Linked DNA regions of Homo sapiens: region 1 is linked to region 2. Evidence: fine-mapped expression QTL. A gene starts in region 2. The other region holds a variant in brackets. All regions are shown on one strand. Distances are from middle to middle. Region 1 holds the start of LNCRNA-IUR (lncRNA imatinib upregulated). Region 2 holds the start of ENDOD1 (endonuclease domain containing 1).

Region 1 (15,763 bases), 59 kb before region 2:
TTCATGATTATCAGGGTTGCCATATAAAATACAGAATGCACAGTTAAATTTGAATTTCAGATAAACAACAAATAATTTTTAATATATGTCCCATATAATAAAAATTATTCATTTTTAAAATTCAAATGTAACAATGTAACTGAGTATCTTGGCGTTTTGTTTTTGCTTTTTGCTAAATCTGGTAATCCGGCTCATGTGGCATATATAAAATTAATGGGAGGAAAGAGAAATGAGATTAAATGAGGAGGTTGTACAATAGTCTCAGAAAGACATGGATAATCCACTCCTTTAACAGGATGGATGGCTGCATTGGAGGTGAGAGACATTCACAAAAAAAGAACGAGCGGAGCATGCAGCTTGGTTAGAGATGGGGAACAAAAGAAGAGAAGTAACCCCAGGGTTACAGAGACACAATTCACACTACAGCTCTGCTGCTTAATTACACAAGATACTCCCAGCCTTGGTTTCCCCATTACCACTTCTAATGTGTCATAAGGAGTAATGAAAATGCCTCATAAATGCTGCACAAATGTCGGTTGTTGTAATAAATGTCCCAGCCCCATTCTTTTCAACACACACTATTACTAAAGCCGTGTCTCTTCCATGCTGTCCTTGTCTAATTATTTTGAACACAAAGGTAAAATGTCCCTTTGTTCCATTTCCCTATTGGCCCACACAGCTCGAACTTGTACAATTCCCTGTTCTCCACATGGGCACTCGCGAACACTCAGAGCTTCCTCTCCTTGGCAAATTCACGGGCCTTTCCTCTGTTTTTCCAGCAAGCCATTGGTAAAAATGTGTATTAGGACAGAGTTGGAGACACAATAAGCCAGAAGCTCTGACCCTCGAGGTGGCCATCAGTCCACGCATAAACACCCTCTGGGTCCTGTCTAATGCACTATACCTGGACTTTGTTTCTCTGTGCCCAAACATCAGACAGAGACCCCCTGTGCAGATAACATGAGGCGATGGGCCCTGATACTGACTACCCCTGCTACTTTCTAGCTCGGTGTCTTGGGGCACATGGTGTAGCTTTTCCTGTAAGATAGTTTGTTATTTACTGTCCTTTTATTTCAATTGCTTTTTCCTTTCTTCAGTGTCAATTTTATGACTAATGGTTACACTAAAATTGTCTAAACCTTTTCTTTCTGGATTACAAATGATGGATGCATAAAATGCTCCCTCTGGCCTGGCTTTCTTCAAGTCACCTTGCCCCTGCCCTCAGGGAGCTCAGCTTCTCATCTGTCTCCAGAACTTCTGCCAGAATGCTTCACCTTTCCTTGGCCTCTGTTGCCACCTGCAGGAGCATTTGGAGGAGGGTTCCAGGACCCTAGATGCCAGAGAGGGAAGCAATAGGCATGTGAAATCTTGAGTTTCACCAGACAAAATCTCCTCACCTCTCTTGAGTTCATGCTGCAATATTTATGTTATTTATTTATGTTTATTTATTTGAGGCAGAGTCTCACTATGCTAGCCAGACTGGCTTCAAACTGTTGAGCTCAAGCGGTCATTGCCACCCACCCCCTCTGCCCCCACCTTAGCTTCCTGAGTAGCTGGGATTATAGGCACGCATAATCATACCCAGCAAAGCTCCAGTATTTAATCAGTTGAGTGACTTTAGGCAAATCACTCCTTTTAGCCTATTTCCTCATCTCTAGAAGAATATTTGATATCCATAAATTTGCTTTGATAGTGATTGTAAATGGGTCATTCATTTATGTATTCACGAAGCAAACAGCATGTTGGATAAAAAGACATGAAAATATAAGAACCTGAGAGAAAAATCACAATATTACAGGGGCATCAGTCAAACCCACAGGAAATTGTCAGTTTGTTTTGATAGACCTATAAACAAAGTGTCACATGATCTAAGTCATGCCTCTTGTCTGGTGCAAGCAGGGAAAGCTTCACAACAGAGGTGACATATTAATTGGACTTGGAAAACCACATAGGAGTTCACCAGGGTTTGGAAGAACACATAGGAGTTCATAAGGCAGAGAGGAAGGGAAAGGACTTTCCAGAAAGGGGAAGCAATAAGCCAAAATGTTTTGACCTGCAGGTTGTTCCCAAGGAGTGACTGAACTCTTGTATCCTGCAGCAAGCAGGCTTGGTAGGAGAGAAACGTTAAGGAGAGAGGAATGTTGCCAATGTCAAGGGAAGGAGTGGTGAGGCTTGGCCCTGGCAGGAGTCTAGTAGGGGGATGAAGAAGAGGAGCTATCAGGCTGCAAAAAGAACATTGAATCAGGATGGGCAGGTCTGCTTCATGGCCCAGACTCTTCCAACCACTCACTATGGGACCTTGGCTAAGTTAACCACCCTCTCTATGCTTCAGTTTCCTCATGTGCAAGTGAAGATAATAACCCCCACCTCGCTGTGTTGTTGCCAGATAACACATGCAAAATCATTAACACAGTGCCTGCCGCAGATGTGCTCAAACAGGTCAGCCACTGGTGTTACCATTAGATATGCAGCTTCAGGGACTTATTTTGTCTCACCAATCCTACTTTCCTCGTCAATAAAGTGAGAACGAGAGTGTCTGCCTTGCATGCATCAGAAACTGTGAAGATACAATCAAGTAATACAAGCTGTACAGAATGAGATAATGAAGCCTACATTTTAAAATATAGCAGGCATCTACCAATCATAACGCAGTTTCACTTTCATTACGACGTTTAACTTTTTCTGACAACAACCTTATGAGGTAGGATTATAATGATGTTTATTTTACATGTGATGAAAGTTGGGTTCCTTCATTTAATAGATGCTCCTTGAGCAGGTTCTGTGAACAAGACAAGACCATGGGAATTGTAGTTGAGAAGAGGAAACAGACTGCAGGTACATGCTGGGGGAACCGGGGCTCAGGGCTTCGCCCTGCTATGTCTCTACTCACTCTCTGATGATCTCTCCAAGGGACTGATGGGGCTTTCAGTCCCATGCCTGTATCATGGCAACCCATATTTCTATCTCCAGCCCAGCCCTCTCCAGACCTGTGTGTCTGCCCAATCAATCTCTCCACTTGTTTTTCTAATGAACACCTCAAACCTAAAATATATAACATTAAGCTGTCTTATCCCTCTACCCCAGCATCTTCCAATCTCAGCCAGCAGCATCTCCGTTTTTCCAGCTGCTTGGAGTCATCCCTGATTCCTGTCTTTTTCTCATACCCAAAAAAACAATCAGACAGAAAATCTTATATATATGTAAATCTTCGCCCCGGTTGGAGTGCAATGGCGCAATCTCGGCTCACTGAAACCTCTGCCTCCTGGGTTCACGCTATTCTCTTGCCTCAGCCTCCCGAGTAGGTGGGATTAAGGGTGCACACCATCACACCCAGCTAATGTTTTGTATTTTTATTGATTGATTGATTGACTGAGACAGAGTCTCGCTCTGTCGCCCAGGCTGGAGTGCCGTGGCGCCATCTCGGCTCACTGCAAGCTCTGCCTCCCAGGTTCACACCATTCTCCTGCCACAGCCTCCCGAGTAGCTGGGACTACGGGCACCTGCCACCACTCCCTGCTAATTTTTTTTTTTTTTTTTTTTTAGTAGAGACGGGGTTTCACCGTGTTAGCCAGGATGGTCTCGATCTCCTGACCTCTTGATCCGCTCACCTTGGCCTCCCAAAGTGCTGGGATTACAGGCGTGAGCCACCGCGCCCGGCCTTTTATCCTACTTTCAAAAAACATACCCAGAGTCTGAGTGTTTCTCCTTACCTCCAGCGCCACTCCATGGCCCGAGCTCTGTTTCACCTGGTTCTCACCTGGATCGCGGCCTCCAATTTGCGCAGTGACCCCTACAGTCTATTCTCCAAACAGCAGCTGGCGTGGTCATTATGAAAAGCAATGTCCACCTGCTGCTCAAAAACCCACGAATGGCTCCCCATTTCTTTCCCATTAAAGCCAAAGTCTAAAACATTTACAAAGCGTTATATGATCAGTTCCTACCTGCTTTCCTTATGTTGGAGGCTGTGAAGCTCCTTAATATATAAACAGTTCTCAGGAGAAGGAATAAAAGCACAGCCACCTCCTCAGCAGAGCCAGTTTACACTCTGCTAGAGACAAGAGGAGCTGGGACCTTCTCCCCTAACCCTTACTGCATATGTGAGAGAAGCCAGACCTGCTGGATCGACTGGAAATGCCCAGTGCCTGAGACGGGGAGGAAAGAGAAGCCGTGGGGAGGAAAAGACTGTAAACCTAAAAGGCATTGAAGTCCCACCTCACCAGTTAGGCAGGGAGGAGAAAGAGGCCTAGGGCGCTCGGGAACTTGGAATAAGGTTGCCCTCTGCGGGTGAAACTGTGAAATATCTCACAGTGGAGGAGGGCGGAGACTGTTCGCAGAGGGGCCCGGCGAAAACGTCACCCTACTGGAGGTACGAACGCATCGCAGACTGGGGGCGCCCGAGCGCATCCCAGACGCGAGGGCAAAGGCCCAGGAGGACTGTGGGGCTCTCGGAAGTATCCGATCACCTTGCGAGGAGTCCGCCGGCTGTCCGAGCCTGATGTCACTGCAACTTCGATTCCTCCGACGCCCCTACTCTTACTTCCCAGTCTTCAGGCAACTTCTCCGCTTCGGCCTCCCCTAGGCCTTGGCCCCAGAGAGGGGACGCACTCCACAGGTGGATTCGCACGTGTGGGCCCTCGGCAGCACTTTCTCGTGCAAATTAACAGGTGGCCCTCATTGTGGAAGCACCGCCCAGCCTTTCCCGGGGAGGTCACCAGGGCGAGGCCGCTCAAGGTCTGCAGGCGCCCGGCGTTAGCGGGATCCTCCCCGCGCACTGGTCCGAGGAGGCCAGGAGAGGGCGAACCAGTCCCCGACCAGCGGCCCTTCCGGGGGTGGGCTCTGACCCCACCGAGCGGTTAGAGGGTCCAGGAGCTCCAAAGGGTAGGGCAGAATTGGGTAGATGAGGGTGCATTTTTCTGGGAGGAGTCTAAGGCGTCGCTGACTCTCAAAGGCCCGCATCCGGAGAAAGGGAAAGAGCCCCGTCCCGGGAGGAAGGACGAGAGGCTGGCCCGCGGGAAGGAGCCCTGGCAGTCCCTCCTGGCCTAGGTCTACCTCTTTGATCTCACCGTCCCCGTGGCGGCGAGTGCCACCAAAGATGAGAGAGGCCAGCAGGTATCGGGAGAGAGCTGAGGGGTCGGCGCCGGCGGGACCCCAGATTGGAGCCGCCGTCGTCGGACGGGCAGACCCTGCTGTAATAGCTCCCGGCCGGCCACGGTAGGCAGGTGGGGCCCACCGCGAGTCCTAGTGAAAAACACCTTCCTCTTGATTCTCTCAAAGGAACCCGAGCCCTGGGAAGGGACATCAAGGCGCTCCCGAGACTCCGGAGACGGCCAACAGCCCCAAAAGAGAGTACTCGGCTATCCAGCCGCCCTTATCCAAGCGGAGAATCTCTCTCCACCTCCGCCCTCCCGGGACTCAAAGTTGTTTGTGGAGCCTCCAGGTTTCCTTGTAGATGGGCACGATATGCACTGTGTGCGCGCGCGCGCACACACACACACACACACACACACACACACACACACACGTATATGTATTTTTCCAGTGGCCACTGCAGGATTGCCAGCTTTCGGAAATGAGCATCCGCTCTCTCTCTCGGGACTGGGCGTGGGGTTCACCGAAAGGAGAGGAAGAGACCTTGCGTTTGCGCTGGGCCTGCTCGATGCCAGGCCATTCTAGGCTTCTGTCTATCCTGGTTTCTGGTCTGTGCGTTGTGGGTAGCAGCATTGGCGTATTACGCCGGAGGGAGCAGGCTGAGCGAGGCTCCAGAAGGTGCGCAATAGCCGGAGAGGAAAGGGCGATGCTGTCACCTAGCCCCCTCCCTGAGACTCCATTCAGCCCAGAAAAAGGAGCTGCTTTCTCCCCCATCTACCCTAGGAGAAAATAAACGGTCGCTGGCATTTTCCTGCGTCTTTTAATTTTGCCAGAACTGTTTTGGGTTGGCTATTGTGGGCCAGGATGGAGGCCTTCTCCTCCCGGGAGCAAACCTGCCCACGCCCAGGCCGGCAGTGGAGTCAGCCTTGCCCCAGCCTGCCCTCCAGGGAAACAATGCCCCTTTGTCCCTCGCCCTCCCGGGGCTGATACAGCCCCTCCCCTTAGCTTAGGGCTCCCTCCCGTTAGAGCATTCCAATGATTGCCACAAGTCACACTTTTCTTTGAGGTCTCTGCCTGGGAAGAAAACAAAGCAGCCCTCCTAATCACACGGAGGGAGTGGAACTTTTCCTGCCCTCTGACTATGTGCCAGCCTTGGCTCCTCCCTGAAGCCCTGTCTAGAGGGCTTATTAGGTCACTTATGTTTTGTACCTCGTGTGAAGTCCCACAATCAGTAGATTATAGAGGGGAGCACAAACCCAGCAGTGTCTGACATAGAGAAATTACACATACATACATACACACATACATACATACATACACACACACACATACACACATACATATACATACATACATACATACATACACACACATACATACACACATACATACACACATACACATACATACATACATACATATATACATACATATATATAGTCTTTCCACCACCCAGGATTGAAAATTAATGCTGTTTTTGACATTGTCCGTTATCCACCCAAACCCTCCAAAAAGGCTGGCTGGCATTTGCTTGGCTCTAGTTCTACCTGCCCACCTTCTCCTTTGCCTAATCCTGAGTTTTCCCCTTCCCCACGTGTGTTCCCCTTGAGCACTTTTTTGCTAACTTCCTGCATGCTACTGTCATCTCAGAGACTGATTCCTGGGGAGCCCAACCTGTAACATGGAGCTCAGTGGAAAGCACATGGAATGTGGACTGAGACATGACTGTGTTCAAACCCTGGCTCTGTCGCTAAGTGGTTACTTGGTTTGGGGCAAGGCATTTAATCCCTCTAAAGTTCACTTTCATCTGGGGGGAAAAGATAACTGTGAGGATTAAGTGAGTTTATATATAGTGTATGAGTGCCTGGACCACTGAAGCAGTGCAGCAGATGTTAGCTCCTCCTTCAGTAATATTTATTGAACATGGCATCCCAAGTGTTACTAGAATTTATATTTCTACTTTATAAATTTTACTAGAATTTATGTTTTCATATTCTTGATACTAATACTGCATTTTTGAAAGGGGTGACTCCTTCCTTATTAAAGTTTTAGAACACTATCCTAAGTGAAGTACAATGGTTACTAAATTAGATGACATCTGGATCTGGCTGATCTTGAACAAGCAGGTTAATCATATAACTTAGCTAGGTCATTGTGAAATTTTCTCCTGTGTAGAAAGAGATATTAATAGTAACTACTGTGGCAGATGGCATTTTCCATAAATGCCTACAAAATACTTTCCATCTCAGCTGCTCTTCAGAAATGACCTTGCCATTCCTCCATCAACAGATGAAATCTAATTCCCCTTCTTTTGCATCTGGGCTGGCCTCAGGGACTTACTTGGGCATTGGAATGTGGCAAAAGTGATGGTCTGGGACTTCCAAGGCTAGTTCATACAAGCTAAGTCATTCTGTGTGAGTCTTTTGGGATGTTCCCTCTTCCAACCCAGCCACCATACTGTGAGAAGCCTGAACACTTGGAAAGCCATGTGTAGGTGCTCTGGCTAACAGTCCCAGCCAACAGCAAGCATCAACTGCCCACCGAGTGAGCTCTCCTGACATCCAGCACCTTTGGGCCTTCTGAAGACTGCAGCACCAGCCCACATCTGGGACCCCAAAAAGAATGGGAATAAACTGAGCCCAGTTAGTATACAAACCAAGACAGATAATAATAAATGGTTGTTTTAAGCCATTAAGTTATGGAGTGGTTTGTTATGCAGCAATAGAAACTAAATCACTAGCTCCTAGGGTTATGTGAAATCAAGGAAGACAATGCATGCAAACTGATTACTAATGTGCTTCGTAAATAATTAATACGGTTGCAGAAAAAAGTAAGCTGATTATATGGGGAGATAAAACATGGGCACAAATAACTGCAAAACTAAGCAGGCATCATCTGAATCAATATTTAGTGGGCACCTATCCCATGCCAGACTGTCTACATAATCATAGAATCTCCAAGTAGAACAGAATTTGGGAGCTATTCTAGTTCAACCTCCCACTTAGTGAGGACATTTCTTCTTGAATGCTTGTTTAATACAACTATTATTTATTAAGCCTCGCTCCGCACCAGAAAGTGTGGTAGATGGTAATGTCAGGAAGTGGGATAGAAAGATAACTAAGACACAGCCCAGGGCCAGAGGCAAACACATGAAGAGTTTCTGCTCAGTGTCATATGTGCAGGGAGAGAGGATACGAAGAAGACAGATGCATTTCCCCTGCATGGAATGGGGTGAGTCATCTCACTATCGGCCAGCTCTGCTGATTCAGCTTCCTGGTGCTCTGGATTCTGCTGATATATTTTCTGTGCATCAACTTGTATTCTGAGTGGCAGTTCTCCAGCTCTTTGCCTTCTTGCTCCATATACCTAAGTTGGCTGTTTACACATCCACTTACCCATCTTTGCTCAAAGCTGACCCTTGTCAAGGAAGGAGGGGTTTGCCTGGATCTTGAACACCAGCCTGTGGGCTCTTTAAGGCCAATGCCTGGATCTTGTTCATCATTGAGGCCCCAGCTCCTAGAGGCACCAAAATAAAACAAAACAAAAGAGAGAGAGAGAAGAAGAAGAAAACAGCCACCAAAAAAATGCATTTCTTTTTGTGTGGGTTCAGAAAAATGCCAGAGATTCATTTAATTCAAATTTATTTCACACAACTACATCAGGGAAAATTAGCAGTGTAATCTGCTTTCTCAAGTTTCATGAGCAACGCTAAGTTTTTAATAGGCTGAGTGTTTAATAGGCAAGTAAAATCAGCCAACAAACAAACAAACAAAAAAACGCTGGAGTTCGAGTCCTTTACAGCCAAGTAGTTGGCAGCTGCTACGGTTATTAGCTATCATAGTTTCCCACATGCAGCCATGTTTTATGGCTTCTTAAAATTGTTTTTAAAAATGTTTCACAAACCATGGGTTTCACA[C/A]AAATATAAGGGTTAGAATTTCAATTTTAAAAAATAAACATAAGTTTGGTGTCACATCAGAGAAAGCTCTAGTTTTCTCCTTTTAAGAAACAGAGGAGGTAACTCACCAGAGCAGAGGAGTCATCTGAATTGGGCCCTTTATTCTCAGCCTAACCTGCTGAGGAGCGTCATCTACAACTCACAAGGTACTGGGAGCAGGAGAATTTGCATGGATAGACAAAAGTTTGCTTCATTGCTCAGTTTCCCTTTAATCATTTCTCCTCTTTATTCTCCTCTTTCTTATTTGAAACTTATTCCTTGTTTGTATTAATGTTTCTCTGCAGGGCTGTAACTGTAGTTTATTACAAAACAGTAGAGTACAGGGCTCTTTCATTTAGCAGCTTAGTATAGTTTTTGTTGCAACAGTGTATTCATATCATGGGGTGGGGGGTAGAATCTATTTAATCAACTCTGGGGACAGTACAGGCCCCTATACAAAATCACCAAAACTTCCCTATGGAGAAAAAGATGGGAAATTAGAAGAAAAAATAAAGCTTGAGGGGGAAAAGGGTAGAGCTTTTCATTTGGAAAAAGAGGAGGAATGGGGAGTTGAGAATCAGTGTGTACTCTTGGGTCACTGGGTGCAACCTAAGAGGCTGGGGTGAATCCAGAAGCTGCTGGACCCCTGGGACCTGGGGGCAAATTGCAATGGTTGGTGGGTGAACTTCTGGGCCTGGATATGAAAATCAGCAATGAAAGGCAAACACTAGAAATTGGTAGTAGACCCCGGAAGTTGGTGGTGGATTCCTGGTGCCAGGATTAGAACCAGAGAGCTGCAGACACAACAGAGTAAGAGTAGCTCAGGGCTCTGAGGGTGTAGGACCACATGTGAGGGTGGCGGCAAAAATGTAAGGCAGTGATGGCCAAGGAGGAAAACTATTTCTCAGTAGGAGTGGAGCCTCTTCATGCCAGGAGGTCTGGTGGTGGTGCCACCCTCTTGAAGTGGAAGTGGAGAGAAACTGTTCCAGTGTGTTTGAAACTTGCCTGGTCAGCTTCTCTGCTCAACACCCTGAAGGTGATGGTCTTGTGAGACTCATTGCATGTCAACGGTACTTTTGGCACCTGTCCAGGAACTTTTAATACTGTCTCTAAGCAGAAATGAAGCAATGGCAGGGCATGATGCCCCTGTCAACCTCTAAACAGTCAATCTGGAAGAGGAGGAGGCTCTGCCATTCGCCTCCAAATTTCTCTGCTTAGTCATTTTATAGCCCAAAGAGATTCTTCTTCATCTCCATCTTGTCCGGCATTGGCTGGGATGTATTCCTTTTGGCTTATCTTTGACCAATTTTGTTTGCTTTTTTCCTTGAGTATGTGTTACGTAACTCACCTTCTTGCTATAAACTTGCATTTTTTGAACCCAAGTTATTGCTCATAAAATGTGGGATCTTGTTGATGTCAGTGGTCTTTACAGCCAACTGCCAGAGATGCTGTCTGAGCTGCTGATTGCTGTCTAAGGAAGAGAACACTCCCCAGTTCTGGTCTTGCCTCTACCCGCTTATTAATGCTAGAAGTACAAATTAAGGGGCTTTGCACTTTTTCTAATAAATATGGATATGTTCAGCTACAGAAAGAAAAGTAAAATAGAGAAAAACTCTAAGCAGAATAAACTCTAGATGTCCTCAGGGTACTGAAAAACCAGTGTTTCCTCTATATTAGAATAGCTGAGAAGTTCATGGTGCCCCTAATTAGAATTTCCAGCCCCAAATCCTCCTAGGACCAAAGTTGGTGCCCAACAAGTTGCTGCTGATCTGGGTAAGCCCTGATTGTTAGTCAAGATAGATGTAGCAGCTGAAGGTCCATCCCCCATGCTCATACGTTCAGTCACAACAGTGACTGTCTTCTTGCTTGCACGCCTGCAAATTGCCTTGGGTCAAACACACTGGATCTGTTCTCTCCATCCTTGCGGTGTCCCAGCCAGATATTGAATCCGTTGGAAGGAGGTGCCAGACCACTGCAGTGAGTCCTCACTTTCTTATCTCTGATCTCCTTAGGCTAATTCTTCTCAATCAATTTGGCCATGGGATTCCTCTCTCCTGTCCTCTGAGCATTCAGTGCAAGTGTTCATCCACACAGCCATCCAGGGGCTTCGGCACCTCCATACTCTATTGTTCTGGCTGGCTCTGTGCCAGCCCCTTTCCCCACTGGGGGGACTCCTCATCTTCTCTGCATTTCTCCTTTGGTCTAAATAATCCAGTTTAAAGTTACTAAAATATGGCTTTGGCATTTGGAATTCAACTTCAAACTCTGTGGTTTCTTTGGCTCACCTAAGCTCCTAAGGTTTTCACTGCATGTCAGTTTGGGCCCAGGAAAGCAAGTACTTAGCCTTATCTGCAGGAACTTGACCCATCTGGAGCAGGGTCAGATTGGAATCAGAAGAGCTGCTCCCCCGTCTCCAGAATCAGAGCTCCTTGGCCAAGGTCTATTCCACAGAGAGACGGATCTGAGTCAGAGGACTTCCTGTACCCACTCTGGTGGTAAGGAGATCCAGAGTGTGACTTCTAGACAAAGAGCTTATCTGAAGTTTGCTATGGCTGGGGAAAGAGGCTTGGAAGGCATGCTACTTCTTACTTTCAGAATGGGATTTTGTTTGCTTTTTTTTCATGGTGGAGAGAGGTCTGAATTGTATTTCTATTTGCTGCTTTTTGGAACAAATGAGAGGTTCCTGGCTCTTCCAATGTGGAAAAGACTTGCTGGAGGCTCTTTTTCATATCTTGCTCATTTTTATTCTGGGTAGAAAGTGATAGATATTGGAAGCCAACCTGGAAAATCATGGAAGGTCCTGCTGGATGGAGATGTCTCTGCTGGAGAGTTAAGATAGGTCTTCCTGAGGGAGGGAGGGGGGAATAGATCTGGGAAGTCATGATTATTTCTCCAGCAAGAGATGCACCTGGAGAGTGCCGATGTGCTCTCCTACTTTGCACTGCTTCTAAGGAGTCAATAGCCCTCCTAGACTGATGGGTCTGGAGGTTCATAGTGGATGCTCTTCAGGGCAGACAGGTCTGAGTAGTTTTGCTGATCACTCCTAGGATGCGAAGGATCTTGGAAATCATGACAGCATTCCTAGGGAGAGATGAATCCATGGAGTCATGGCAAGAATGCCTGTGGAAGGACAGGCCTTCCTTCTTGCTTCCATGTCCTTGGTCCAAAAGGGCTCCGTCTGTGTCCCCACCCATCTCATATCCACAGGAAAATTTCCATCATCATCTTCTTCATTTTCCAGTTTAGTGGTGAAGACAGATCATACCATGGTCCACGCACATGATGGTCCACAACCTCCATCCTCCTGCCACTGGCCCTGCCATGCTTGCTACTGAATCTGAAGCACTCATCAGTACCAGTGACAAGTGACATGTCAGAAGTGTGATGACTGAGAGTGGCAGAGTAGCTACTAGAGCAACAGCATGTCAGGCTCTGTGACTTAGTGGGGCAGGGAGGAGAAACCACATTAACAGGTGCACCCTGTTTCTCAGGTCCCAGATCAGCGCTCTGAGGAAAACATAGCAGGGAGAGGTCCACTCAGGGCCTCACAACTTTGGGAAACTCCTTATTCAGGTCCTAAGGGGATTCGTCTATTTTTTGCAAGCAATTCATGTAATGGAATTAAGCTTAGTCATGTCCACAGTGTTTATGCCCATCCAGCTAAGCCTGACTCGATCTGGGGAAATGCCCAAGCAGTTGATGATGCTACTCACTCAAGGGAAAGGGTATTCGTGTGATGAAGATTAAAAATAAAATAGTTTTCAGGGGTAAGGCCTGCTAAAACACAATCTAGACAGAGCCCGAGAGCTTCTTCACTGATCAGTTCCATTTTCATTATATTCAAAACGCCATCTCCCTCAGTGGTGATGGACGTAGTTTCCCACTATTTAATAGTTGATTTTTTCTGTGCTCTTCTCACATGATCAACCTGAGCCAAGCAAGGAAAATTGCTTTTCCTCTTCCTTGTGAAGAAAGCAATGTCATGTCCTTACATAATGTTAGCATTTGGAGACAACATCTACACAGCATCTAATTTCTCAAAGTGAGTAACTTTACGAGTCTTCTATAAATGTACTGCAGAGAGATGTGTGTTGGTGATTAGATCACCTCCCCTGTCTTCTTTGTCCAACCCACGGCTTGGAGTTGGAGCCCTGAGTGGAGCTGTGTGGAACTCTTCTCCAAGGAATAATACAGCTCAAGGGGCTGTGGGATGTGAGCACTTTTGACAGTATCAGAAATCTGCAGCTGGACATCACAGCCTGCCTCCACAGCCTGCCAGTAGAGTTAGGAAGGAGGGTGGTGACTGCCAACAACACCAATGGCATCATAGCAGCTATTACAGAAGCATTTTTCCTATATCCTCTCCCTTCTCACCACACAATGCAGTAGCTGGTACTAAATGAATCATTCTCCAGGGCCACATTGCTCTGGGAATGTAGAAGAAAAGAAGCTAGAAGGCAAGGACACTTGAAAGACTGATCAAACAGAGGGACAACTTGATCACGAGTTCCTCAAGGATGGGTTCCTCATCTGACTCAATCTCATCTCCACTGACCAACGTACTGGAAGATCAATGGATGGTTTCTGGGAAGTTGGTTAAACAGACCGAGGATGACGGGAGCAAAGAGAGCTGCAGGAGGCAGTTCAGGCTGCCAGTAGACCCAGAGTCCTTGATCCTTCTCAAAGGAACATTGGACATTAACCAGGATCAGCCTGAGCAAGAGAGAGTGCAGGTTTCCTGTCTGTACCATTTTGCTGTCAAACTGGCAGGGCTATGAGACTCCCTGGGCATGCCCCTTAGAGGGGATCCAGCTCCAGCAGCTTGTGATCAGCATTGCTCGATCTTTGTTTTCCTGAAAGAGACTCTCCACAGTCCTATGAAATCAAACCTCTCAAATGGGGGCTGGAATTACTCAGGGAAGCCAGGAGTTGAGCACTGAAATGGTATTTCAGGCCAGGGAGTGCAACAGATAAGACACCCCCATTCTACAACCTCACCTCTAGTCAGAGTGGCTGAATGCATTTATAAATCTGAATTCTTTCTTAAAGATAAGTTTTTTTGTAGCAACTTCGCATTTTCCCTTCTCAAAATGAGAACTCATATTTTGAAACCCTTTGCCCATGAAATTATTTTTCTGACAATAAAAATACATATAAAGAAAGGATGTCACATGGGAAAGATTGCATTCCTAATCTGCCTTTCTATAAACTCATTCTCTTCAAAAAGATAAACTGTGACTTTATATAACAACAACACAATGGTGAAAGCATTCTTCTTAGGCATTTTTGTGAGCTCTATGTATATATTAAGGACATTAGTTCTTTGTCTACCATATTATTTGCTTATCAGTCTTCTAACCTCCCCAGCCACAGTATGTAGGCATTTGGTACAAGCACTGTAGTAGCAGGTACATGACTATGTTTTTGGTCTACTCTTTGTGCCTAATATACAGGCTGGTGGGCATGAAGGTTCAACAAATGAATATTAACCACAAACTCTACAAGGCAGATCACCCTAGGTTCTGCAACCTACCTGATAACCCTACTCTTATTTCACTAGGTTTGTTTTTAGAAGCTAAGGAAAAACATCTGCATGGAAAACTCAATCATAAACACCCTCTGTCATATTCAGATAGCACAGAAAATTCTAGAACAAAGCACCTGTCTCCTAGCAGAGCTTTGCCTGCTTTGAGATTGAGAATACCTGCAAAAAGCACCTAAGTCATTTATTAAAATACTGAGCTGAGAGTCATTCCCTTGTAGGAGAAGGCTCATTTGGTTATTGCTGTGGGTTCTGGAGCAGGACTTTGGTATGTCAAGACCCAAGTCCAGTTACTGGCTGTGTGACTCTGGACAAGGTAGTTAACCTCTCTAAGCCTCAGTGCCCTCCTCTGTAAGCTCAGAAAAAAATAGATGTACAATTTATTACAGTGTCTAGACCTAAGTGTACAATTCTTTGTAGATATCCTTATCATCATGATTATGATATTACTCAAGTCATGGAAACAGCAAGTCCAGTTTCTGGAGACTGCAATGATGTCATTCCTCACACCCACTCAGACTCCAGGAGGCTCATCCAGTTTCCCACCAAGTGAGTCTATGCCTTTACTGCTCCCTTCTATAAAACACTAGGATAATCATGGTACATAATAATGCCTTTGTGTTTATAGGGCATGATCACATTCATTTTCTCATTTGATCCCCACAATAACCCTGTTATGGTAAACAAGGAAGATTATGTTATCTCTATTTTAGAAGTGAGGAAATAAAGGGAAAACGAGCTTAAGTGACTAGCTTAACTTACTAAGAAGTGGAGTAGAATTTGTAACAAGATCTTTCTCGCTGTGTCTCAGGGTGGAGTAGAAAGACCATTTACCAAAAGGGGCAGCCCCCTATTGGTCAAGTTTTGCTGCCATCACTGGGACCACCAGAGTGGGGAGCATTTCTCCTCCACATTTCAGGATTCGGGATCTGCAGTTTGCTGCCTTTAAGCAGCTGATGTCAGTGTCTTATCCTGCCCAAGGTATACCGACAGGTGTTATTAGGAGATGTCTGCCTGGAGCAAGTCACACTATTTCTACACATACACACTGACATCTTTATATAGTTTACATATCATTGACATGCTCACCAGAGGAAGCTTTGAAGGGAAAATGGAGTCTCAAGAGGGCATTAAGCCAGCTGGAGTAGATGGATAGATGGCAGGGATGGAGGGGGCTCATGCTCTGTGAAAGGCCAAGT
Region 2 (12,889 bases):
CCAGTCTTATCCAGTCTCAGCACAATAGACTGGAATGCCATTGCTCACTGTTTTCTGACAACACACTTCTTGGTTTTCCAGGACAGAGAGGGTGGAGATGTCTTTGGTACCTGTTTGGTTTGTTTTTGCTTTTAATCACTCAAATCCACCCTCCATCCATTCATTCAATCTTCCACACATTTCATCTCTCATCATGCATTTATGAAGCAGCTACTGTATGAATGTGGGACATACACCAAGCATTTGAGAAGATACATGGATAGATATTTTACTTTTTAGGAGAGATTTGCAGAATTGTAGATGTCACCTATCTAATCCAACATTCCATTTGTGTGTGTGTGTGTGTGTGTGTGTGTGCGTGCACACGCCTAGCACCTACTGAAGTAACACCTTATATACATATTAATATTTACTAAGAGTTTACCATATTCCAGGTACCATGCCACATGCTCTCATGTGTTATCTTGTTTATTTGTCACAACCTCTCTATAAACACTTTTACAACCTTTAATGAACAGATCCAAAAAATGGGGCTGGAAGTCACATAGCTTGTAAATGGAAGAGCAGGGATCTGAATTAAGTCTCTTAATTAAGGAGTAAGAATCAGGATTGTCCTGTTCACTGCATTCCTTACACAGAGATTTAAGTGTATGATGCTCTATATATCTGTTCTCTGACACAATGAAAAGAAGGCTGAGGTTGGAACAAATTGAACAGTATTTCTGTTTCAGGTTGTATAAGCCATGGATGGAAATTAAAAATCAAGGACTTAATCAAGGTTCTAACTTGAAACAACCATTTGCATTTACTAAGATCTGAAGTAAGACCTCACTGTGCCCTCCAGGAAAATGTTTTTGCAGTTAACCAGAATATCCCCTTCATTCCAGAGTAAAGTGACACTTGAGCAACCTTTATGCAGCCAAGTAAGTGCTCCCACTTGTCCTATGACTGTCAGAAAATAGAAGTGGAGTAGAAATTAGAATTCTCACATAAAAGATGAAAATTAGAGTCCTAAGACCATTAGCGCAGTGGATCCATTGTGAGATCAAAGAATCTCCACAGTGTATCAGAAGAGTAATCAGTAATGAGTTCAAAAATAAGCTGTGTGACCCTAAAACACCTCAGTTAACCTCCCTTAGCCAGTTTCCTCCTTTCTACAATGAAGATAATATCTACCTCACAGTATTTTTTAAGATTGAACAAATATACACTATTGTTACTGAATATATAAATTATATATTATATAATTAATATGTATAATATATTAATTATATAATTTATATATTCAGTTCCTTCCATGTTTATAAAATGATAGAGCTTTATATGTTGGCTTCTGGCATAAATCAGCAATGCACTTTAGAAAGGTATCATTGGCATCTTATCTAAAAATTCTTCCATTAAGTGGAAAGGAGTCAACAAACTAAAAGGTTTGAGGCTTCCTGCACTAAACCAGAATCCAGTTCTCAGGTTTCTGGAGTCTTGACTAGAACTCCTCCAAACCATCTCCTGTAGGCAGAGCAGAGATCAAAATCATTTGGGATAGTTTCAAAGGCCAAAGCTAAGACTGATGGAGTGGCTGCAGAGCAGGGTTCCAGCTCTGCATAGGGAGCATGTTTGTAACAGTTGCTGCTGGCCAGCCCTGGTGCAAGCTTCTGAAACAGGAAGCGCCCCACTGAGAAAACTGAAGCAGAACATCTCACCTGCTCCTGCCTGATTGATCCTCCCAACATCAAATTATTTTATTCAACACTTATCGCGTGCTTTCTATAAGCTGGGCACTAGGAAAAGAATGAGTAAGATGCAATCATCATTCCTCAAGGGCTCAAGTTGGGGAGACAGATACATAAGCAGATAATTACAAAACAACATGGTAAGTATGAAAATAGAAAAACTATAAGAGCACTGAAGGGGTGAACCTAACTTGGGAGGTGGATACAGTTCAGGTGGGGAATTCTTTCTGGAGGAGGTGACACCTCAGCAGAGTCTTAAAGGATGGAGTAAGGGCAGGAAGTGAAGGATAAGATGGGGTCTGTGTAGAAAGGGAATTTGGGCAAAGGGAATCAGCATGAGCTAAGAAACAGACATCACAAACAGTCTGGTTTATGAGAGGAACTCCAGGCAGCTGGATAATGCTAGAACATAAAATATGAGGGTGGAGCATGGTGAGAAACTAGATTGGAGCTGGAGACAGGAGCTAGGCTATGGAGAGCCTGTAAACTGCATTCTGCAGTGTGAACTTTGTCCTGTAGGGGCTGGGCAGGCAACACTTTACAGATTTTCAGCACAAGAGTGACTAAGTTTCTGTGATCTTTGACTTAGGAGATTCTTTTCAAAGGGAAACTGCAGTGTGGACTCAAAAGCTGCCGAACTGGGCTTTGGGAATTCAGTGTCACTGCTGCCCTGCCTGACTCATCACTGGAGGCAAGCACTGAGTTCCTTTGGTCTCCTGCCTCTTCCTCCCCTGTGTGCGGGTCCTCTTGGTAACACTGACCTCATAAAAAGGTGATGTGGGTACAAGGAGACTCAGCATTATAAAATGCTTGGAAGCCGCCAAGGGTACACATTGAGCCCTGAGCATCTTTCTGCAGTGGGGATCTTGGCTGGGAGGCAGGGCCTCAGGGAGCAGGCAACAGTGGGGGCAGGTTTGCTGCAGTGCACTCCAGGCCCAGCTGCACCTCACACCTCCTCCTCCCTCCCTCTCTCCCAATACTCTCTGGATCCTGGCTGACTTGACTTGAGGTCGAGCGGGTGGATGTGGGAGGCCAGCCACCTTGCAGGGAAAAGCATCCTGCAGTGCTCAGCCACAGTGACCATTCTGACCTCTCAGCACAGCAGGAACTCAGGCCCCTTGTACTCTTCAGAACCGCTGTACATCTTACCTCTCAAGCTGCCATTTGTAACTATTTCCACCCTCCCTTCCCATCTTCTTTAATCTCCACAGTCCCCTTCCTCATTATCTCACCCAGGGTCTCCATGTTACCTGGTTCCCTGTACTTCTTTCTGTCAAACTATGCTCCTTTACGACTCACTCCTTCCCTAGCTGCATAAATGGCTCTGCCTCCCTAAGCCTTCCTTGGTGGCTCCTCCCCACCTGATCCCTCCCTTCCATGATTCCTTTTTATTCTGAGCAATTGAGTGCATTCATCTATTTGTATTAGTTTACCTGTTCCAACTTCTTCACGCACAAATCCCTGAATCTGCCATGCCTTTCTCACTCATGATGTTTGTTCCCTCTGCTTGAAATGTCCTCCTCCTTGCCTCCCTTCTAAACTCTGCCTTATCTTTCCACACACAGCAGAAATGTCATCCTGACCCTAAGGCTTGCTTCCATCACCTCAAAGACAGATTAAATCTAATAGGACTTTGTTCACCTTTATTAAATTATGGTTTTTTGCTTAGGTCATAGCAACAGCTAGTACTTAGTACTCATGTGTCACACACCTGAGAACTTTATATATGGTAACTCATTAAATCTTCACACCACCCTATGCTATTATCTCCAATTTAACCTGCCCAAGTTCATAGCTAGTCAGTGGAGCAACTAGGATATGAACCCACATAGCATGGCTCTAATCAGATACTACACCACCTCTCCACCCAGCAAACTCCACCTGCAGATCAGGTAGCCTTTGTTCCAGAACTGCACTCAGATCTCTTGGTCCCAAATATCTGGCACACAGCAGGAGTCACTAAATGTGTTCTGAATTTAACTGAAATTTGTTTAGCATCCATTCCCATGATTTCCTCAGACGTATGTTCTGTCTCCCCAAGCTGTCCATGAGATCAAGGGGAAAGAACTAGCTCATTTGTTTTCTTCGCAGGCACACAATCACAATGCAAGATGAGAGGTGGGGAACACCCTGTGAGCTCTAGGGGTGCAGCTGGTGGAAAACTAATTTTGGATTTAAATGTGTCTTGTGTGTGCAACTGACAACGTCTTTTTCACATGCCTGATCTCGACAAGTGTTATCAACAGTTGAGGTAGGTGGAAGGATGTGAGGAAGATAAGAAAACTAGGTGCAGATTGTTTGAGACCTGGCCAAGACCTCAGAGCTAGAAATATCTGAATGAGATTACAACCCACAGGCTCTGAATAAAGCACCTGAAAGCCAGCCTCCTGTCCACTGGTGTGGTCCTGGGCAGCTGTGGCCGTCAGGAAAGGGAGAGCGTTGGGTCAGTTCTTCCCCCAGCAGCCTGGGCAGGGGTGGGAGGCTGGTGAGAGGGCAAAGGGGAGTCTGGCAGGGTGTTCTAGAGAGGAGGCCAACTGAGGAGAGGTATTAAGAGCAGGCCAGCAGGTTCGGAAGACTCTGAGGGCTTCTCAAGTGTTTGGTCACCTTTACCAGACGGGACAGAACACCATGAGAGGTGACACGATTTCCTAGTGGTATGATAATATAGATATGAGGAGTCAGGAAAAACTGGCTTATCTTTCCATCAGTTGGAGGTAGTCAATGTTTCCCTATCATTTTTAACTACCCCATTGCGTTTCTAAAAATCTGTATCTTTATTTCATTGTTCTAATTCAACACAACCGCAGATCGAATTTACTCAACGCCGTGGTAGAGGAAGGATTTTCAGGCTAGGATGAGCTCTGCAGAAGAGAAGCTTTACTTAGTAGAAAAGGCAGTGAATTTCTAGACAGAGACCTGCCCCATCTTACTAACTGGGTAGTCTTCCATATGTCTCTTCACCCCCTGGGTTTATCTCCTCTTCTGTAAAATGGGGATGAAAATGCCCACCTACCCACCTCCAAATGAGTGCTATGGCAATAAGTTGCACGAAGGCCTGTGAGCGCCCAGCCTAGGCTTTCTGCGGATCTGAACGGTCTCCAGGGTCTCTGTATCAAGCTCTTCACCATTCAGGAATGAAACACTGCGGATGTCTGCTCAGAAATGCAGGGAGAACCTCCTCCCACAGGGGACCTCCCGCCCTGCAGCTCATGAAGTGAAGGCTCGCAGATCGCCAGGCTCTTATTGTAGCTCGACAGGGGCGAGGCAGGCTAACTCCGGGGACGCAACAGGGTGGACCTGGAACCCGGGTTTCTTGGCCCAAGGCACCGAAGGCGTAGGGATTGCTGTTCCCGGCCCGCCCCTCGCGGTAGCTGCAACTGGGGGCATGTCCAGCGGCACGGTCTCCGGCGCCCGCAGCCCGGCTCGGGAACCACTTCGCTTACCTGCGGCTCCACCAGCCATCGCTGCTCGGCGCCGCCGGGCGCAGGGCGCGGGGCGCGGAACGCGGAGTACACGGGGATGCGGTCCCGGGTGCTGTAGAGGGTGGCGAAGCGCTCAGCACCCTCCGCGCGCTGACAGATCTTCACGTGGGAATCGGCCGCCAGCCCCGCAGGCGGGGTCCCGGCGTAGAAGAACTTGTCACATTCGCCAAAGCCGGCTTCCTCCTCGCCCACGAGCCGGCCTTCCAGCAGCCCAGCCAGGGCGAAGAGGCTGCCCAGCGCGAGCCAGCGCGCGGTGCCCATGGCGGCCTCTGCGAGCGCGGCGGGGCCGAGCGGCTGGGCTGCCGCGGCGCGAGCTCTGCAGGCTGGGCGGGGAGCGCACTACGCAGCCGAGCAGGGTAGGGAAGGGAAGTCGCAACCTAGGCGCGGCGCTCTGCGGAGCCGGGCGGGGCGGCCCGGGCGGCGGGGGCGGGTCCGCGTCGGGAGGCCGCGCCTCCCTCCCTGAAGATGGCTGCAGAGGCCCAGGGCCGCGCTCCGCGATGCTGACAACGTACCCTGGGCTGCGCCCGGGACTGGAGACGCGGGTCACCTGCCTCCGCGCCGCCTGGTCTCAGCAGTCCGGGGGACGCGCGCTACCAAGAGTGGAGAATCCGAGTGGGGCGGGCCTAGTCCCGGGGCTGGGAAGAGATAGTCGCATGGACTGGGCGCCAAGAAGCCTGCTGATCGCGCGCGCCCCACGGCCGCCCTGGTGATGCAGAGGGGTGGCGTGAGATGCTCGTGGAGCTGCGGCTGGTTCGGAGTGGATGGGCAGAGTTCCCCTCTGAAATTTCATGAAGATGCGTCTCCCACTCTCCACCGAAGTACTCAACGACCAGCACACGCATACAATTTTGATGGAGTTTTTTGTTTTTTGTTATGTTTTTTTAGCTCACCAGAAACTCAGAGAGTAAAGAAATACTGTTAAAGGAAGTTCCTAAACTAGGCAGACAGTATAACCCTGTGTGGTTTTCTTGGTGCAAGTGTTAGAAACAAAACCGATACCAAGCAAGGAAGGAGGCCAGCCAACGTCATTGGTCAACAGGTTGGCCAATTCTTTCCTTCATTTATCCCTCTGAATGCCTAGGTGCCAGCCTGAGATAGGCACTGGATTACCACAGGGGTAAACAAGAGCAGGGCTCCTGCGGTCACAAAGACAGCCTAGTGGGAAAGTTTGTCATTAACCGAGGAAACATGCTATTAAAGGGATAACTAAAAACTGAACACAGATCTGTGAGACCCTGACAGCTACAGGGGTTCAGGATGTAATCCGGGAAGGTTTGCCTGAAGAAGTGGCATCTGAGCTGAGACCTGGAGGATGACATTAACTAGGCAAGGAGGAAAACCATGTGCTAAGTGGTCTCCCACAGAAGGGAACATGATGTATTGGAGGAATTTAAGGAAGGCTAGTGTGGGTAAAGCGCGGAGAACCGCGTGGGGGATGATGGGAAGTGGGGCTAAAGGAGGAGGCAGGGGTCATATTACTCAGGTTATTATAGGCCAGAGGCCTTCAAACACTTTTTGAGAAGGCCCATAATGAGAAAAGTTTGATGAAATAATTCTTATGCTTATGATTGGCATTGCAATTTCATATTTCTGTTCTACTTCACTTTTTTAAAAAAGTGCTGGTGTTGACCCACTAAATTGTTTCTATGAGCCACTAATGGCTCATGACCTGCAGTTTGGAAAAAATATTGTAAATCATGTTGAGGATTTTCATCTTTTAAAGGTGGTGACTCGATTCTTTTTGCTATCAGGGAAGAGACTGGTAGATTGAAGTGGCACAGAATAAATGGGTGGCTCACACCTGTAACCCCAGCACTTTGGGAGGCTGAGGCAGGCGGATCACCTGAGGTCGGGAGTTTGAGACCAGCCTGGCCAACTTGGTGAAACCCGTCTCTACTAAAAACACAAAAAAATTAGCTGGGTGTGGTGGCGGGCACCTGTAATCCCAGCTGCTTGGGAGGCTGAGGCAGGAGAATCGCTTGAACCCAGGAGGCGGAGGTTGCAGTGAGCCAAAATTGTGCCACTGCATTCCAGCCTGGGCAACAGAGCCAGACTTTGTCTCAAAAAAGAAAAGGAAAAGAAAAGAAAAACACCCCATAATTGCCACAATCCAGATAAGAGATGGTAGCTTGGACCAGGATGGTAGGATGGTGGCAGCAGAGATAGGGTCAAGGCAGCTACCCAGGGCCAGGGCCTGTGCTCATCTTACGATGTCATCTGTTTCCCCAGTGTGCCACTACAGGGACTGAGACCAGAGCCTGTTGATTCTGGCCTAAGCTGGCACAGCCAGTGAGTCCTAAGACAGATTTGAAACAGGTCTCTCTGCTTCCCAAGCCTGGCCTTTTCTTTTAACTCACAGCGCATCTGTAAGGTGAGCCCATAAAGAAGGAAGCTCTTCAAGAGATTATACATTGGAACTTAAGAACAAATTTCTTACAGGTTTTAATTCCGGAAAATGTTGACTATGTTTGGTCCCAGAAATGAAACCAAAGTTTGTATCTTAGTTTTTTTAAAAAAAGGAGGGGACACATTTAGTGTGATGTCACAGAAGAGGCTAGACTTGAAGTCCCCTTTGATCTGGATGATGACCCTGATCATCTGGTACTAGTATCTCAGTCATCTCATCCTTGTAGGCTTCAATCAAGTCCTCCCACAGGGACAATGCTGCTCCTGGGATGCTGGGAGGATTATAGGTTTTACAGGATTTTAAAAATATTTACATTATTTTATAAGGTTGAATATAGGGTTCCCCAATGTTGACTTATGATGTCTACCATAAAGATATATAAACACAGTTGAACAACTAGAAATCCATCCCTCTCTTCTCTGAGTTCTTTAAACATTTATCTGTTATGATACTTATCATGGTAGAGTGTTAATAGTCCCTGTATCTGTCTTCTTTATTAAATCATGTGCTCCTAGGGACAAAGGTGGTTGGTGGATCCCAGTGGCTACCACAAAATCTGGAGTGATTAGATGCCAAATATGATTATGTTGTATTTTAACAAATGCAGAAAGTATAATACAATCATCATTGGCCTTTATGACTAAAGTATTTATAAGACTTTAATTCACTTTCTCAAAATTTCTTGATGCCTGCCCGCCACCTCTGATAAGCATAAATATCTCTGCCACTCAGTCCCTGTGGCAGACTTTAGTTTTTTCCCCAGCCCTCTATCAGTGACTGACACACATATAACACTGAACATTTGTACATCCCACAGCCAGGATGATTTTGTTTATTTTCTTTAGTTTATAGTACAAGACAATAGATTTTTCTTCCATGTGCTTGCCTTCCACAGATAAAATATTACTTTTGCAAATTACAAATGTTCTCACCCCAAGATTCTGGAACAACCTACAAGGTAGGAATGCCTTGATCTAATTAAAACATTTGCTAACTGCTGATTTTAGGGGAAAACTGTCTTTAGCAGCATCTGTATGTGTAAAACATGTAGGTCCATCAATAATTCACTGCTGTCTCTACATTTGGTCACTGACTCTCTTCTCACAGGGAAAGAGGTTTCAAACCAGATCCTCTTAGGTCTCTGCACTCAGACCCAGCCAAAGCTGGGTTCCATAGCCTTCAGCAAAGGCTTGAGGATGAAAAGTAATGGTTGATGTGGAATAAAACATTTGACATGCACTTCTGTGGCTTGGTTGGTTCTGTCCAAAGTTATTTAAAAATATGAGCCCAACTAGACACTTCTTTCCCCTGCCTCACTGCTCTGATGATAATTGCATCTCTACCATCACACCTTTGACCAAGCCATCCTCATTTGTCATGCCCAGTTTTTATCCCGTCATCCCTTCTAATCCACTCTCCAGCTGGGATGACTTCCTAACATAAATCTGATGATGTCACCCTACCCTTACAGCACTTAATCACTCTCCATTTACCTTGGGATGCAGCCTGACATACTAGCTGACTTCCATGACCCCAGAGACCTGGCCTTTCCCTCTCAGGCCTCATCTCTCTCCACTCCCACCTTGCCCACACGCTCAGCTTCTTATATTTCCATGAATGCACAGTGTTCTCTCTTTTGTTTTGTTTTTGAGACAGGGTCTCTCTGTCACCCAGGCTGGAGTGCAATGGTGCAGTCACAACTCACTGCAGCCTCAATGTCATGGGTTCAATTGATCATCTCACCTCACCCTCCTTAGTAGCTGCAGCTACAAGCGTGTGCCACCACATCAGCTAATTTTTGTATTGTTTGTAAAGACAGGGTTTTGCTATATTGCCCAGGCTGGTCTGGAACTCCTGAGCTCAAGCGATCCATCTGCCTTGGCCTTCCAAAGTGCTGGGATTACAGATTTGAGCCACTGAACTCAGCCTGATGCTCTCTCTAGTCTTTGAAACTTTGCATCATAAACTACTTCCCTTGTCCTGGAATTCTCACCACCCATTCTCATCCCTTCACTCATTTCATCTAGCTTTTTTTTTTTTCCCAATAGTCTAGCTGACCATCACTTCCTCAATCACTCACCTTCCTGACAAGCATGTCCTCAACTTTACTCCCTCCTCCCCTCTATGAGGTTAAGAGCCCCTTCTAATTATGCCTATTAAGCCAGTAACCCCGTTTCGTAACTGCTACCTTTCCCCTTAGTCATGAACATAGTGCCTACTATAGAGTAAGCATCTAATACAGTGAGTGAGTAGATGAATGAAAGAAACTTTCTTTATGAAACTTCATTTGGGTCTTCATTGCTCTAATTCATTCATTCATCCTCAGAATGTTTTTTGAACATCTACCATGAGCCAGCAATGGCACTAGATGCTGGGTATTTAAGGGAAGCAAAGTTTAGCCTAGTTCCTGCTCTCCTGGCACTCAGGCCAGCACCTCTCAGTGTCATGTGGGCAACCAGAAGAGAAAACACAAGCTAGCTAATTATTTGCAAGTGGCTTTGCCCTAGACTAGGGCAGAGCAAAGCAGAGAAATCTTCATGCAGCTAGTGAGTTCTGTAACATTGAGTTCATGCTATACCCATCTTCATTACAGTGCAAGACTGACACAGACCTTGGCATCACAGAACTTGAAGTATGGTACGGAGGACAGACAGACAAGCAATTACAATACAGCATGAGAAATGCTCTGATAAGGGAAGTACTGTGTGTTGTGTTGCAGAGAAGTATAATTTAGGCGGAGAAGCTCTGGAAAGACAATGGGAATGGTGGAAAATCATACTTAATTATGAGATATGTTGAAACATCATTCACAAACTAGAATAACAATTAATTTCTAGACCCCTAGAGCTACTTCTTTGGCTCTCCTCTCTTGTCTCTCTAGCACATATAAGGAATTGCCAAATGATTAGGAAGCTAATACAGTTTGGATTACCAGGAGAGGTGAGGAAGCTGAGGAGTAGTTCCTATTGGGGTTAGAATGCCTGATTTTTTTTTCTAACAATGACCAAATCAAAGAGAGCCTGCCTGGCTGAACCCATGTGTGGGTGGCAGACAGTGTTTTACTGAGTCAAGAGAGTTGCTGATGCATAAGCAGCAGGAGGTTGAGTCATGTTTACCTGAAATGTGGGCAGAGCTGTCTTCTTTCTAGTAAAGCTAAATGTGGATGATGTTTAAAAATAATAGCAGTTGTTGTTTAATGGGTATAGAAATTGAAATTTGCAAGATGAAAAAGTTCTTGAGATCTTTTTCACAACAATGTGAATATACTTAACATTTAAAAAATGGTTAGGATGATTAGTTTGATGTTTTGGGTCTTTTACCACATTAAATAGAAAAAACTAATATCAGACTTCACATCAATATGGATGTGGATAGAGGAGAAACTTATTCCTTCATTCAGCAAATACCGAGTGGACCCCACAGGCCAGGCTCAGTGCAGATTGCTGGGGCCACAGAGGGTATAAAACATGGTCTCAGCCATCCTGGAACCCACAATCTCAGCTTACCACCAGGTCATCTCTATTTTCAACACAGAACTTTATACATTTATTTCAGAAATACACCTGCCTAAGTAACAATTTCATTGTAATTACTTATGAGTTAAAACAATTGCTATTTATTTTAATTGGTAGAAAAAAATAGGGAAAACATTTAGTCCCATCTCTAAGTCTGTATGTGTCTGTCTTAGTTGACATGTAACAGCATCAGGGAATTATAAAAGACTCCCAAACAAAAAGACAGACAAATGGAAAAACCACAGGTCTTGGCATCAGGAGGTTTTGGTTTAAATTTGAGCTCGGCCACTTACAAGCTATTTGAGCTCTCTGAGCCTCAAATTCCTCATCTGTAAAATGGGAATAGTAATACCTATTTTGTATTATTGACATGAGAATTAAATGAGATAACCAATATGAAGCATCTAACCTATAGCAAAACTCAATAAATGCTAGTCCTTTCTTTCATCTCTATAAGTAGATGGGCAGAGTTTCACTTAGAGAAAACAGAATTATGAAAATCTGGAACTTACAAGACAAGTATTTTAGGGCTCTGGTTTATAATTTCAGAAAGAGTAAATTCAGTTTATAAACTGGTTAGCTTCAGGATGCAACCTGACAATTCAATTCCAAATCAAGATAGGACCTCTGAAGCACAGAACCTTTCCAGTACAACTCCCTAAGACCAAAATACCCTTGATCCATTGACTTTGATTAAGTCTCAGGCAGTTTTCCAATGCAATAGCAGTGGGATCATTGTGGGCAGAGGAACACTCCTTAAGAAAATGCCTATGTGTAGGAGGCGACAAAGAGAGATAGACACATTCTCTTTCGTGGTTTGCAATGTTAACTTCCATAAGGTTCAGGCAACTAAGTAAAATTAGAAAAAAAAAGCACATTGGTAGATATTAAGAAACACCTTCCCTTGTAGAGGTGAGATGACAGTATTCTGAAGATGAAGCAGGAGGGGAGCAGAAAATCCTAGTGGTTCATGCTTAGTTAGACCCAGGAGGTTCTTGGTTTGTAACCATGGAGGTTTACGATTTGTCTAAAAAGGCTTTATTAAGAAAAATGAAAAGGAGCAGAAGGAACCGTCTATGTCCATTGACATATCTATTGAATTCTTAGGCTTGCTACCTGGTTCCCCTGGGTCCAAATTTTGGCCACCAGCAGTGACTAGATGACTTGTCATTTTCACCATAGACCTGAATATTATTGCTTGTGACCCCTTGAAGATGCCTCTTCCTGGTGCTTCCTTCCACCTCCCACCAACAGCTCCGCCTACGTTTCCAATGGCATCTAGATGGTGGACTCAGTTTCTGGGCCTTTTGCAGGCCCGTCCCCCTCACCTTGCCCAGTGCAGAGTGAGCCCTTGTCCCTTGCAGCAAGTTTTGTTATTAAAGTCACTGGGCATTTGAGGCCTTTGTCTTTGGATTATTAATCTGCTCTGCATGTACCCAGGACCCAACAATGAGGGCATCTGTTGCAAATCTAATATTAGCAACAAACTCACGTCACATCATCTTGTATAAAGAGAATATTGAGGGAGAAACATTTGATCACTAGCAGAGACATGGAAGCATTGAACAAGGAGCTCTGTCAAATGCTTGGCTCTCTATTATTCAGGGGAGGGAGGAGAGGAGGGGAGGGAGAAGACTGAAGAGTGTAAGCCTTTCTTTCTTCCCATGTGTTCAGCTCTCCCAGGGCAATATGACATACTCTGCACAACTCCTACAATATTTGACCCCAGGTCAGACATAGAGGTCCACTGCGACC

The links.
Region 1: its variant is fine-mapped to the expression of ENDOD1 in whole blood (INTERVAL, PIP above 0.99).

The regions. Positions count from the first base shown.
Region 1 is chr11:95,140,203-95,155,965 of GRCh38, reverse strand. It overlaps LNCRNA-IUR (lncRNA imatinib upregulated), which reads right to left and starts at 5,427. Exons shown (of 3, transcript NR_110303.1): 1 at 4,218-5,427. It also overlaps the pseudogene BUD13P1. RefSeq lists a silencer at 4,198-4,307, enhancers at 4,828-4,957, 4,558-5,099, 5,100-5,641 and a cis regulatory region at 8,027-8,657. The variant C/A (reference allele first, on the strand shown) is at 9,005.
Region 2 is chr11:95,082,512-95,095,400 of GRCh38, reverse strand. It overlaps ENDOD1 (endonuclease domain containing 1), which reads right to left and starts at 5,555. Exons shown (of 2, transcript NM_015036.3): 1 at 5,174-5,555. The coding sequence starts at 5,473. RefSeq lists silencers at 2,182-2,476, 5,304-5,733 and enhancers at 2,182-2,476, 5,744-5,803, 5,874-6,153.